Regions from separate parts of the Homo sapiens genome. Here region 1 is linked to region 2. Evidence: fine-mapped expression QTL. Tissue or cell type: whole blood. Region 2 holds a variant in brackets; the other region holds the start of a gene. Each region is shown on its reference strand, or each on the opposite one. Region 1 holds the start of H1-10 (H1.10 linker histone). Region 2 overlaps CRAMP1 (cramped chromatin regulator 1).

The links.
Region 1: it holds the start of H1-10, and the variant in region 2 is fine-mapped to the expression of H1-10 in whole blood (TOPMed, PIP above 0.99).

Annotation. Positions count from the first base shown.
Region 1 is chr3:129,314,775-129,317,669 of GRCh38, reverse strand. H1-10 (H1.10 linker histone) reads left to right here and starts at 1,384. Exons shown (of 1, transcript NM_006026.4): 1 at 1,384-2,895. The coding sequence starts at 1,768. The coding sequence ends at 2,409. It overlaps H1-10-AS1 (H1-10 antisense RNA 1), which reads right to left and starts at 1,399. Exons shown (of 5, transcript NR_026991.1): 1 at 325-1,399. RefSeq lists silencers at 906-1,245, 2,046-2,175, 2,556-2,845.
Region 2 is chr16:1,664,548-1,667,442 of GRCh38, reverse strand. CRAMP1 (cramped chromatin regulator 1) reads right to left here. Exons shown (of 21, transcript NM_020825.4): 14 at 2,305-2,386; 15 at 1,266-1,370; 16 at 843-1,021; 17 at 43-108. Among named protein-coding and RNA genes, the nearest start is that of JPT2, 12 kb to the left of the region's middle. The variant T/G (reference allele first, on the strand shown) is at 1,434.

The sequences.
Region 1 (2,895 bases), not on the chromosome of region 2:
TGAAAGGGGTGAGCTGGAGAAGAGGGGAGGTGCTGCTAGCCCTCACCCAGAGAAGCCTGCTTGGGCCCAAGGCCACAAATGCACCAACCCACCCCCTTTTCAGGGCCTTTTACTCTGTCCACCTGTAAATGTTCCTGTCTCTCACTCTGGGAACCCCAATTCGCCAGCGTCCTGTCCCCCCTCACCCCTCCATCGCTTTTCTATGCTGGGCCTCTGGAGACTGTCTCCTGCCTGCAACCCTGCCACCCCCCAGCCCCAGCCCCACTCCTGTGCCCTACATCACCTACCCCCAAAGGGATCCCCTCTCCTACCCGAGCATCTTACCCTGGCCTCAGCTTCCCCAAGTGGAGGCTGCAACGGCTTCAACAAAAACTGTCCTGTGCCTTCTCTGCACCCCCAATACTGGAATCAGCAGAGATCGGGCCGCCAGCCTTGCACAAGCCCCCCCGGGGAGGGTGGGGCCCGGGACCCTCTCCAGGACATGGTCTCCTTTGCTGTGTTCCCGCCATCATTTCCCTGTGCACGGGAGAGGGGGAGGGGTGCACCCAGGAACTAAGAGCGAATCCCTTCCCCATCCTCTCACAGGAATTCCTCTGGGTGTCACAGCCTCACCCCCGCCCACCCTGTCCCACCCTGGAGCCCCCATTTGGCTTTGGGGGGACCGGCGGCAGCTACTTGTGGATTACAAAATGAGGCCCTGGGAACATCAGCGGCAACAGGGTGGGGGGAGCGGCGAGGCAGTGTCCCTAGAGAGGTCCTGCCGTAGTCCTCCATTCCCCGGGTTGTGCCTAGGCTCCCAGAGGCACAACCAGAACCCGGGGTGCAGCTGGAGAGTGCCTCCCATCCGCCATCCCCTTTGGATGGGGCGGAAAACCCCCGAGGATGTCCTAGCGCAGTTCACGTTGCCCCAGCCGACCACGTGAGGGCGCGCCCTGTGTTAGTTTGGACAAATTAAAGCTCCTCTTGCGGGCAGGCCTGGAGCCCCCCGGGCCGGGACAAGGCTCGGGTGCCCGTGGCGTTCTCTGGGTTGCCGGCCGCCAAGCTCCCGGCCGTGGGGCCTCCTCTGGGGCCCGCGCTATTGGCCTCCAAACGAGGTGCCCCCCTCCTCTCGCGCTCCCGCAGCCTAGGGTGCACCTCTCCGTTCGCCTTTGCTGAGCCCTTCCAGGACGCAAGTCGCCTCTCCACTGCGCCGGGAGCTCAGGCCCTGTCCGGGGCGCCCCGCTGCGGGCGCGGCGGCGCTGGAGAGGCGCGGTCCGAGAAGCCAGCGGCCGGAGAAGGGGCTCCAAGAAGCACAAGTTGGCGCTGGCCCCGGACCAGGCTGTTGTTGTTCTCAACGTGGTCCGCCATGAAGCTATAAAAAGCCGAGAGAAGCGCCCTCCCGCCAGAGCGCAGCGCGCACGCCCAGCGAGTTCCAGAGGCGCCAGTGGAAGCTGCGGCGGCGGTGTCTCGCGTTCGGCGGGATTTCTCTTCGCTCCGGCTCGGCCTAGGTCTACGTCCCCAGCTCCAGCCGCCGGCTCGGACTCGGTCTCTGACCCCCAACTCGGTCCCCTAGTCCGGCCCCGGCTCCGGGCCCCCCAACCCTCGCTCCGGCCCGGCCCGGCCCCCACCCCAGCCCTGCCGCCCGGCCCCAGGCCCGGCCGCGGCCGCTCCCGCCTGGAGCCGCCGCGCGCCCCCAGCCCCCCTGCACCCCCTCGGCCCCTCGCCTTCCTCTTCCCGGCGCGGCCCCCCGGCTTCCGCGCGCCGCCCGCCACCAATCCTCTTGCTACCATGTCCGTGGAGCTCGAGGAGGCCCTGCCAGTGACGACCGCCGAGGGAATGGCCAAGAAGGTGACCAAGGCTGGCGGCTCGGCGGCGTTGTCCCCATCTAAGAAGAGGAAGAATAGCAAGAAGAAGAACCAGCCGGGCAAGTACAGCCAGCTGGTGGTGGAGACCATCCGTAGGCTGGGCGAGCGCAACGGCTCGTCGCTGGCCAAGATCTACACCGAGGCCAAGAAGGTTCCGTGGTTCGACCAGCAGAATGGGCGCACCTACCTCAAGTACTCGATCAAGGCGCTGGTGCAGAACGACACGCTTCTGCAGGTGAAGGGCACCGGCGCCAACGGTTCCTTCAAGCTCAACCGCAAGAAGCTGGAGGGCGGCGGGGAGCGGCGCGGAGCCCCGGCGGCCGCCACCGCCCCGGCCCCCACCGCGCACAAAGCGAAGAAGGCAGCCCCGGGCGCGGCCGGCTCCCGGCGCGCGGACAAGAAGCCCGCCAGGGGCCAGAAGCCGGAGCAGCGCTCGCACAAGAAGGGCGCTGGCGCCAAGAAGGACAAAGGCGGCAAGGCCAAGAAGACGGCGGCCGCCGGGGGCAAGAAGGTGAAGAAGGCGGCCAAGCCCAGCGTCCCCAAAGTGCCCAAGGGCCGCAAGTGAGCGTGTCGGCCGGTCAGAGCGGCCGGCGTGGGCTTTTCGGTGTTTTTGTTTTTCTACCCCAAGTGACGTAGATTTTGTACGGCTCACGCCGGCCGGGGCCGCGAGGCCTGGTCTGAGCCTCAGGGAGGGGCCCCGGGTCCTCTCAGTCTTTCCCCTCCCCCAACGATGTAGCGTTTTTCGTTGTTTGCTTTAGGTTTTTGAAACAGCCCCGGCGACGCCTCTATTGGCTCTCGGCCTTGGCAACGGCCGTCGTCATGGTTACTGGCCCCTAGGCGCCGATGGCCGAGGCCGCGCCTGCCCACCGGGCGGGGTCGCTGGTTGGCCGGGCCCAGGCGCGCGGGGACGCGGAGGCCGCGCATCCTTTCCCAGCTCCCCACCCTCCTTGCCTTTGGGTGCGCGACAAACAATCGCTCCGGGCTCAGGGCTGCGCGGCTCTTCCCTTCATTCCATGGGCCTTTTTTTGGGCACAATAAAGCGTTTAAACCT
Region 2 (2,895 bases):
TGGGGCAGCTGCTTTGCTCAGCAGCCCAAGAGCACACTCTACCTGGAAACTGTCTGCCACTGGCTCCTGCTCAGGCCTCGAAGGGATGCTGACAAATGGGTCGGAGCCCTGCAGGAAGAGCACGCCCATGAGCAGCCGCAGGGTGCACCAGATGCCACCCATACCCTCACCCGCGACAGAGTTCCAGAAAAAGAGGCGTTCCATCCCCCTGGCCTCCTAACAGCAGAGGGACAGTAAATGGACAGGGGTCTAAGGTCGAGAACACTGAAAGGCTACTTTCAGGTGTGGACCGTGTACTTCCAATTTTTTGTTGCTTCCAAGAGTGAAGTAAAGTCCTATCAGGAAGTCAACCTTGTGGCAGGCAGGGCTGGGCTCCCTGGAGTCTTAACAGCATCAGCCCACCCCACCCTCCTTGGGGCAGCTCTGAAGTGGCCGTGGGAGGCCAGAGAAACCAGGTGCTCAGAGCCTTGGAAAGGAGCAATGGCCAAGGCCATACAGGCTGCTCTCTTCCCAGATGAAAGAGATGCTCAGTGGTGTCCGAGCACAGCGCTGTGGGCTGCCACCTTGGTTATGGTCACTCTCAGATGGAGCTATGTTTCCACACCGTCTTAGCTCTGAGTTCTCCAGTGCCACATGGCAAGCCTGTCCCCACCTTTCGTCAGTGGCTCCGGAGGCCTCTCCTGCTCTGTACTACACAGAGTTTGCTTATGCCATGGCACCCCTGGTCCAGAGACTCTCCTCCAAAGGCAGAGCTGGAGTCCAGCGTGATCTCAGCCCCATGGCTTTGGCGTCCACACCAGAAGTTGGTGGTAATGCTGAAAAGCCCTTCTAAACATACTCACCCCCACGGTGGGGAGGGTGTCTCCATCCTGGTGAGTTCCAGTAGAGTCCTGCCCCGAGATGGCACCCGTCACCTCGTCTGAAGACAGTGGAGAGATGCCAGACAAGCCCTCGGTGTCCAAGGCAGGGAGGGGGTTCCCGGAAAGGATGCCGGCACTTGTAGCTGCTAAGTCGATAGCACCTGGCAACAAAAAGGACGCTGCACATCTCTGCTCTACTGACAACCCATAAGATGTCCCAAGAGGGCTCGGGGAACAGCTTCTCCCTCGCACCTCATGTCAATGCAAGAGCCAAGGGCTTAGATGTTCTTGGTGAAGGGTAATGAGACATTATGATTTGGAGAAGAAAACATTCAAAAAACCTGGTCACAAAAACATCCCTCAGAGGCTCACTCAGTGGCTGTGGCCATGCAGGTACAGACTTACTGGCCAGGTGACTCGTGGCCTGGGGTGGAAGGACCTTGGGCACGATCGGCCGAGACAGAGCTGCTTTGGTCAGAGAAGACTGGATGGGCCGGAACGAACCTCTCCCTGCGAGGGCGAGGGCAAAAGCAGACATGTCGAGCCCGCCCGCCATGCCCTCACAGCAGGATG[T/G]GGCCGCAGGGGGCTTCCTTTACAGCCACTGTTGGGAGTGTGGGAGCCGAGCCAAGCTGGAAGCCACTGAACATTCCAAATGCTAACATGAGGAGTCAGAGGTCACACAGGCCCCCAACGTGACACAAGCTCTGGCACCCACCACTGTGCCTCCCAGGAGCTACTGGAAGGCTGCGGTCACCACTGTCATCCTGCGGAAATGGCTCTTGAAGGGTGACAAGCCCCCAAGCTGAGGTACAGGCCCCAGGGCAGTCAGAGCATCAGATTCTGGACTAAGATGCTGCCACTGCAATTTGGTTTTATCTTGCCAGGCTTCCCACAGTTGAAAATTGACAAGTAGGCAAGAGAAAAAGCAATTGACAGCTGTTAAGGGTCTTGCAATAAGTCAGTGAGAGACGTGGAAGTCAACACTGGTAGAAAAGGGAAGTCACAGAGTATGTGTTTCACTAGAGGCTTCTCCCTGTGTAATATCTACCGCAAGGAGCCAAGGCCCCCACTAAATGTACAGACTGATGGAAGCATAATCCATACACCCCAAGAACACATCCATCCCATAAAACGGCTGACAAGACATTACACAGAGAGAGCAGACAAGAGACACAACTCTAACCAAGCCAAGCGCCTCACACAGGGCCATCTGAGGCCACAGACGAAGGGCACCCTTTGGACTAGCTGCCTCGCTGGACTAGCTGCCTCGCCCGCCACCGCAGCCTGCAGCCCAGCACATAGGGCACATTAGGTATTTGTCGGTAGAATGGACAAAGGAATGCCTGAAGATAGGCCATGGAAATAAGCACCCATTGTCTCCAAAGCCAAGGCCCTCCTGTGAGGAGGAGGGACAAGCTACCCCAGAAAAGCTCAGGGTCCTTACCAGTTACGGAAGAGTTAGACAGGATGGAGAAGGAACAAACGTTGTGGGACTGGTTTTCCGATGGTCTAGGGAGCAGTGTTCTCTGTGGGGAAAATGGTCAACAATCAAGGTGATGAAACTCCCATACCAAAAAATCACTCCCAGTTACAAAGGAATGTCCCAAGTAAGAGGGTGCCCAGCATAGCCAGGTGGGGCTTTTTCCAGAGCCGATGACACAGGGTACCTGGGACTGCTCAGACAGTTAGGACCCATGTACCCCAAGCTCCAGTTAGGTCCTCTCTCAAACAAACCCAGGTAATCAAACCCTCCCCAGGGAAACTGGAGGAATGTCAGAGTCATCCACTTTTTTTTTTTTTTTTTGAGACGGTGTCTTGCTCTGTCAGCCAGGCTAGAGTGCAGTGGTGCAATTTCGGCTCACTGAAACCTCTGCCTCCTGGGTTCAAGTGATTCTCCTGCCTCAGCCTCCCGAGTAGCTGGGATTATAGGCACTCGCCATCACGCCCAGCTAGTTTTTGTATTTTTAGTAGAGACGGGGTTTCTCCACGTTGGCCAGGCTGGTCTTGAACTCCTGACCTCAGGTGATCCACCTGC